Linked DNA regions of Homo sapiens. The protein of the gene in region 1 interacts with the protein of each later gene in a biochemical or structural test. Each region holds a gene or a part of one and is shown in the gene's direction. Other genes may lie near its edges.

Evidence for each region. The genes of interacting proteins can lie anywhere in the genome.
Region 2: of the proteins of MAP3K2 (region 1) and XIAP, one has a biochemical effect on the other in vitro, tested with the Homo sapiens proteins (2 studies listed by BioGRID, with this or other methods).

The regions. Positions count from the first base shown.
Region 1 is NC_000002.12:127,321,866-127,325,594, reverse strand, and holds part of MAP3K2 (mitogen-activated protein kinase kinase kinase 2), read left to right. Parts: intron 1-1,353; coding exon 1,354-1,421; intron 1,422-1,600; coding exon 1,601-1,693; intron 1,694-3,342; coding exon 3,343-3,549; intron 3,550-3,729. UniProt on the Homo sapiens protein: Component of a protein kinase signal transduction cascade. Regulates the JNK and ERK5 pathways by phosphorylating and activating MAP2K5 and MAP2K7. Plays a role in caveolae kiss-and-run dynamics.
Region 2 is NC_000023.11:123,866,534-123,870,262, forward strand, and holds part of XIAP (E3 ubiquitin-protein ligase XIAP), read left to right. Parts: intron 1-3,729.

The DNA.
Region 1 (3,729 bases):
CACCTCTGACCCCCGAGGAACTAGGACCAAAGGCATTTGCTATTAATACCACATCTGGCTATTTTGTTTGTATTATTTGTAGAGATGGGGGTCTCACTTTGTTACCCAGGCTGATCTTGAACTCCTGGGCTCAAGCGAACCTCCTGCCTTGGTCTCCTAAAGCGCTGGGATTACACACATGAGCCACCATGCTCAGCTTACTGTAGTTTTCTTTTTTAATAGATATGAGTAAATATTCATACAGATAGAATGTTGAATTATCAGTAACTTTTTTGTGCTACATTCAGAGGAATAGAATTGGTACTTGTGTATGATGACGGCAGATGAATTTTTGCACAGTGTGGATAAATCCCTTTACCTCATGGGACTCAGTATCTTTGTTAGTTAAAAGGAAATCTGATTATAATAGTTTGAGTATTCCTGCTTGTCAAAATTGTGTGTTTGAAGGCAAATCAAATTTAGAATTTATGTACATTTACTTTTAAAACTGTGTTTATGAAAAGTGCTATCAACTTTTACATTAATATGTTTGGTTTTGGAAATTTCCTGAGTTATTTCACCTGTTCAGGATTATGTTCATTCTGGCACCAGATTAGAAATAATTTAAATTCTTGGAAATTGTAGCCCACTGTGTCACATTGGTACATGTAGGCAAAAATTTAAGTACTTTTGTGAAAAAGCTGTTCAGGAATATGAGCAGGATAAAGTTGCAAAATGTGAATTTTTTGTTACACGTGCTCCCCCTCCTGGTCTCAATAGGACAGTATTCTTGGTAATCCTCTCTGGAATTGCTTTATGAAAGCAAATTCTGAAAAAAATAACTAATATTGCGTGGGAATGCACATTTAAGTTTCTTTTATCCATGTATATGAAATTTCTGTCTGTGTCAATGTCTATCTTAAGGTAGACATTTAAGAAATTCAGGGAAGTAGTAACGAGAAAGCTATATATTTGAGTACTTACCATTTGCAAAACACTATCCTGGATACCTTACTTATGTACACTTGAATAGTTGGAAATTATCTTTTTTGTTGATGCAGAAGGGTGATTTGCCAAGGTTACATAGTTAAGTGGCAGAGCTTGGATTGAAACACAGTGCTTAGAAACACCTAATGATTCCAAAATACGTCATTCTTCCACTGTACTGTAAGGTTAATTTTAAGTCATGCTCTTTGCCTACATGTACCAAGTAAGTGTAGTTTTTCTTTTTTAGGTATGCTAACCTTTCAAAGTGAGCTCCTTTACACAAACACATACAGAGAGGCACAGATAGATATAGATATTGCTCAAAGATTTTCTTTTTAATGTCTTACGTTCTTTCTGTAAACTTAATGTGATGTTTTTTCTTTATAGAGAGAGCTATCCAAAATCACGAATGCCTAGGGCTCAGAGCTACCCAGATAATCATCAGGAATTTTCAGGTTAGACTTTATAAATTCTAAATGTTTAAATGTTTATGTCATTGGATAATGTTTTGGCTGGGAGGGAGAGGGGGGATTTTTGAAAAGTCAAATAAAGATTTATAAATGTGCTTTTCATCATTAGAAATATTTAACTTTTTTTTTTAAATAAAAGATAACCATCTTATATGTCTTAACAGACTATGATAACCCTATCTTTGAGAAATTTGGAAAAGGAGGAACATATCCAAGAAGGTATCATGTTTCATATCATCATCAAGAGTATAATGATGGTAAGTTTCTAGCAATTAGACCACAAGAATAGTTAAAAAATCTCAACAACAAAAATAAATACAAAAATTTTTTAAAACCTCATATTTGTGTTAATACCATTAGAAAAATATGAGGAATTGTGTTATAACAAAAGTATAATGGGCATTTTGGCTTTATGACAACTTATAAGACTTGGTTATCCCTTAAAAGAAAATGAATAATTTTTTGTTTTAAGAGACAAGGTTTTGTTGCCCAGGCGGGAGTGCTGTGGCATGATCTTAGCTCACTGTAACTTTAAATTCCTGGGCTCAAGTGATCTTCCTGCCTTGGCTTCCTGAGTTCAGGTGTGTGCCATTACAGGCATTTGCCATCACACCCAGCTAATTAAAAAATTTTTTTTGTAGAGACAGTGTCCCACCATGTTGCCCAGGCTGGTCTTGAAGTCTTGGGCTCAAGCGGTCCTCCTGCCTCAGCCTCCCAAAGTGCTGGGATTACAGGTGTGAGCCACTGCACTTGGCCAAGAAGGAGTAATTTTCTTTCTTTCTTTTTTTTTTTTCCCCTGAGACAGAGTCTCACTCTGTTCTGTCACCCAGGCTGGAGTGCAGTGGCATGATCTCTGCTCACTGCACCCTCCACCTCCTGGGTTCAAGCGATTCTCACCTGGCTAATTTTTGTATTTTTAGTAGAGATGGGGTTTTGCCATGTTGGCCAGGCTGGTCTCAAAACTCCTGATCTCCAGTGATCCACTTGCCTTGGCCTCCCAAAGTGCTAGGATTACAGGCGTGAGCCACCGTGCCCGGCCTAATTTTTGTATTTTTAGTAGAGATGGGGTTTTGCCATGTTGCCCAGGCTGGTCTCGAACTCCTGGGCTCAAGTGATCTGCCTGCCTTGGCCTCCCAAAGTGCTGGGATTACAGGCATGAGCCACTGCACCCATCCAAAAGGAGTAACTTTTAAATGATATTAGAAAATTACTCTTTGATGATGAGATTGATACTTACATCATCCCTTTAAGAAAAAAAATTACTGGCCAGGTGCGGTGGCTCATGCCTGTAATCCCAGCACTTTGGGAGGCCGAGGCGGGTGGATCACCTGAGGTCAGGAGTATGAGACCAGCCTGGCCAACGTGATGAAACCCCGTCTCTACTAAAAATACAAAAAATTAGCTGGGCATGGTGGTGGGCGCCTGTAATCCCAGCTACTTGGGAGGCTGAGACAGGAGAATCGCTTGAACCCTGGAGGCGGAGGTTGCAGTGAGCCGAGATTGTACCACTGCACTCCAGCCTGGGCAACAAGAGTGAAACTCCATCTCAAAAAGAAAAGAAAAAAATTACTACCTGTGAACTTCTGCATCTTTGTTTTAGATTTTAAAATCATTATTGGAAATGAGAGTAAATTTTTTTCCTCCTTTTTATCCAGAAGTGAGGAGGTTCCTTTTTAAGATGTGTGTGTGTATGTTTCTGTGTGCACACTCATACATGTTTTATCATAAGAGATTATTTGAATTTGTATTCAGATCCTGTTTATTTTTTCCCACCCAATCATTCCTATTTGAGTTTCTTAGCCTAGTCACAGGACAAATTTCTATTCTCTACATTACAAATTTTAAATACTTTAAAAGTATAACATATTAATAAAAGGTATAAGGTCATTCTCTTTTCATTTTTTAGGTCGTAAAACTTTTCCAAGAGCTAGAAGGACCCAGGGGACCAGCTTACGGTCTCCTGTGAGTTTCAGTCCTACTGATCATTCCTTAAGCACTAGTAGTGGAAGCAGTATCTTTACCCCAGAGTATGATGATAGTCGAATAAGAAGAAGGGGAAGTGACATAGACAATCCTACTTTGACCGTAATGGACATCAGCCCACCCAGCCGTTGTAAGTAATAGAACTTGGTATAGTGAAATGTAGAGCAGAATCTTTGCAGAATTTTATATTATTAAAAGGAATAAATACTAAGTGAGTTTTTGGGGTCAGATGAACTACTCAAAAAAGGTAATAATGGTGTTTCTAAAGGTGGTTGGAATGTCAGGTATAAGCATGGTATCACTGCTAATT
Region 2 (3,729 bases), on another chromosome or scaffold:
TATAATATGTATATAATAATGTATGATATATATAATATAGTATATAATATATTACATGTATAATATATTATATATAATATATAATACAATATATGTAAAATATATATAATATATAACACAATATAATATGTAAAATATATTACATATATAATATATATATTTTTCAGACAGAGTCTAGCTCTGTCACCCAGGCTGGAGTGCAGTGGTGAGATCTTGGCTCACTGAACCTCCGCCTCCCAGGTTCAAGCGATTCTTCTGCCTCAGCCTCCCAAGTAGCTGGGACTACAGGTGTGCTACCACACCTGGCTTATTTTATTTTATGTATTTATTTATTTTTCTGAGACGGAGTCTTGCTCCTGACCTCATGTGATCTGCCCGCCTCGGCCTCCCAATGTGCTGGGATTCCAGGCATGAACCACCGTGCCTGGCCAGAGATATGTGTTTATTATAGAAAATTTATGAAATAGAATAATGACGATCATATTGTCTACAGGTTGTTTTAATCCCCCCCCCCCCTTCAACATTCTATAGTTAACATTTCTGTTTTTTTTTTTGAGACGGAGTCTCGCTCTGTCGCCCAGGCTGGAGTGCAGTGGTGCGATCTCAGCTCACTGCAACCTCCGCCTCCTGGGTTCATGCCATTCTCCTACCTCAGCCTCTCTAAGTAGCTGGGACTACAGGTGCCCGCCACCACGCCTGGCTAATGTTTTTGTATTTTTAGTAGAGACGGGGTTTCACCATGGTCTCCATCTCCTGACCTCGTGATTAGCCCGCCTCAGCCTCCCAAAGTGCTGGGATTACAAGTGTGAGCCACTGCGCCCAGCAGTCTTTTTTTTTTTTTTGGTTTGGTTTGGTTTTTTAGACAGAGTCTCACTCTGTCCCCCAGGCTGGAGTGCAGTGGCACAATCTCAGCTCACTGCATCTCCGCCTCCTGGGTTCAAGTGATTCTCCTGCCTGAGCCTCCTGAGTAGCTAGGATTATAGACATGTGCTACCACGCCCGGCTAATTTTTGTATTTTTAGTGGAGGCATGGTTTCCCCATGTTGGCCAGGCTAGTCTTGAACTCCTGACCTTGTGATCCGCCCGCCTTGGCCTCCCAAAGTATTGGGATTACAGGTGTGAGCCCCCGTACCTGGCCTTTTTTTTTTTTTTTTTTTGAGACGGAGTTTTGCTCATGTTGCCCAGGCTGGAGCGCATTGGTGCAATCTCAGCTCACTGCAACCTCTGCCTCCTGGGTTTAAGTGATTCTCCTGCCTCAGCCTCCCAAGTAGCTGGGATTACAGGCGCACGCACAACCATGCCCAGTTAATTTTTCTATTTTTAGTAGAGATAGTGTTTTACCATGTTGGCCAGGCTGGTCTCGAACTCCTGACCTCAGGTCATCCACCTGCCTTGGCCTCCCAAAGTCCTGGGATTACAGGCATGAGCCACTGCGCCCAGCCTGAAGTCTTTCAAAATACATTTTTTATTTATCCAGTGTATTATTTTATACTGCACTTTCTTCATCTGTAAAGTAACAGGGTCAGGCATGGTGACTCATACCTGTAAGCCCAGCACTTTGGGAGGCTGAGGTGGGAGGATTGTTTGAGACCAGCCTGGGCAACATCGTGAGACCCCGTCTCTACCAATAATAAAAAAATTAGCTGGATGTGATGGCACGCGCCTGTGAAGATCGCTTGAGCCCGGGAGGTCAAGGTGGCAGTGAGCCATGAGGGCACCACTGCATTCTAGCCTGAGTGACAAGAGTGAGGCCCTGTCTCAAAACAAACAAACAAGCAAACAAACAAACAAAAAACCCAGGGTGGCTGGGCTTAAGGACTAGTTGATTCCAACGATTCAAAACCCATTATAATAGTTTTTAAGCCTGATTATCTGAGATTTTGTCAAGGAAAAAAATTCCACATAACAATCCCAGGCCAGGCATGGTGGCTCATGCCTTTAATCCCAGCACTTTGGGAGGCCAAGTCAGGGAGATCCCTTGAGTCCAGGAGTTCAAGACCAGCCTGGGCAACATGGTAAAATGCTATCTCTACTAAAAATAGAAAAATTAACTGGGCATGGTTGTGCGTGCACCTGTAATCCCAGCTACTCTGGAGGCTGAGGTGGGAGGATCACTTGAGCCCAGGAGGTGGAGGTTGCAGTGAGTCAAGATCAGGGCACCCCATTCCAGCTTGGGGGACAGAGCAAGACCCTATCTCAAAAAACAAAAACAGGAATTTGAGGCCAAATTTATGGATTATATATTTTATCTGCTCTGTATGTGGTTAATAATAGGTTATCCTTTATATGATAAAAACATACTTATGTCCATTTTGCAGGACTTGGCATGGGCTTTTATTGTTTTAAATTGTGATACATTTGTAGCTCTGCTGTTTGATACATTTTGGGATTTGATTTTGGTATGATTTGGTACCCAGTCTTTGTTATGGATACATGTGATTCACCTTGTTATGATATAGTTTTATGTATTTTCGAGGATATGGGTCATAGTGAAAAGTCACGTTTACCTGTACAGACTGAGAATAGCTTGATCTCAGATGGTCAGATGTTGAACCAAGTGGATTAAAGCTGATTTCTTAAACCGGACAAGGCTGCTGCCATTGTGCATTCCCTGGTACTTATAAAATATTATGGTTTGAAATTTTATTCTTATTTCTGTAATCATCTTATTCACCTTAAATACAGAAATACAGACATCTGGCTGGGCGCAGTGGCTCACACCTGAAATCCCAGCACTTTGGGTGGCCGAGGCAGGTGGATCACTTGAGGTCAGGAGTTCAAGACCAGCCTGACCAACAGAGCAAAACCCCATCTCTACTAAAAAAATACAAAAAAAAAAAAAAAAAAAAAAGCTGGGTCATGCCTCTGCAATCCCAGCTACTTAGGAGGCTGAGGCAGGAAAATTACTTGAGCCTGGGAGGTGGAGGTTGCAGTGAGCTGAGATCATGCCACTGTACTCCAGCCTGGATGACAGAGTGAGACTCCATCTCAAAAATAAAGAAAAGAAAAAAAAAACACAGACATCTCAGCATATATTACCATGTGACTTAACCTTTCTATGGTTCTAGCTAATTTTTTAGGCCTTGAAAGGGAAGGAAGCCTAACATTTTCTGCTACCTCATTGGACTGTCCCTTCTGCCAGTAATCCTTGTAGTAATTTCCTTAGACCTATATTGGTCATAATCACTGGGTGCATGACCTTTGATGAGTAACAGTCAGAACTACTGTTTCCTCATATTTCAGATGAGGCCTATGATATATTATGTAGGTTAAATTAGATTCCATATATGAAAACATTCTAAATTGTAAAGCACATTACATATGTTAGTTATTATCAAAGGTAACATCGTGAAAGAAGAGAAGATGAGCTATAGAATCACACAAGCCCATGCTTAAATTTTGACCTTACATTAAACCAAAGAGGATTGATTTTTTTTTTTAATTGAGACGGAGTCTCGCTCTGTCGCTCAGGCTGGAGTGCAGTGGCGCAATCTCAGCTCACTGCAACCTCTGCCGCCCAGGTTCAAGCGATTCTCGTGCCTCAGCCTCCTTAGTAGCTGGGACTACAGGCACGCGCCACCACGCCCAGCTAATTTTTTTGTATTTTTAGTAGAGACAGGGTTTTGCCATTTTGGCGAGGCTGGTCTCGAACTCCTGACCTCAGGTGGTCTGCCCACCTCAACCTCCCAAAGTGCTGGGATTACAGGCTTAAGCCACCATGCCCAGCCA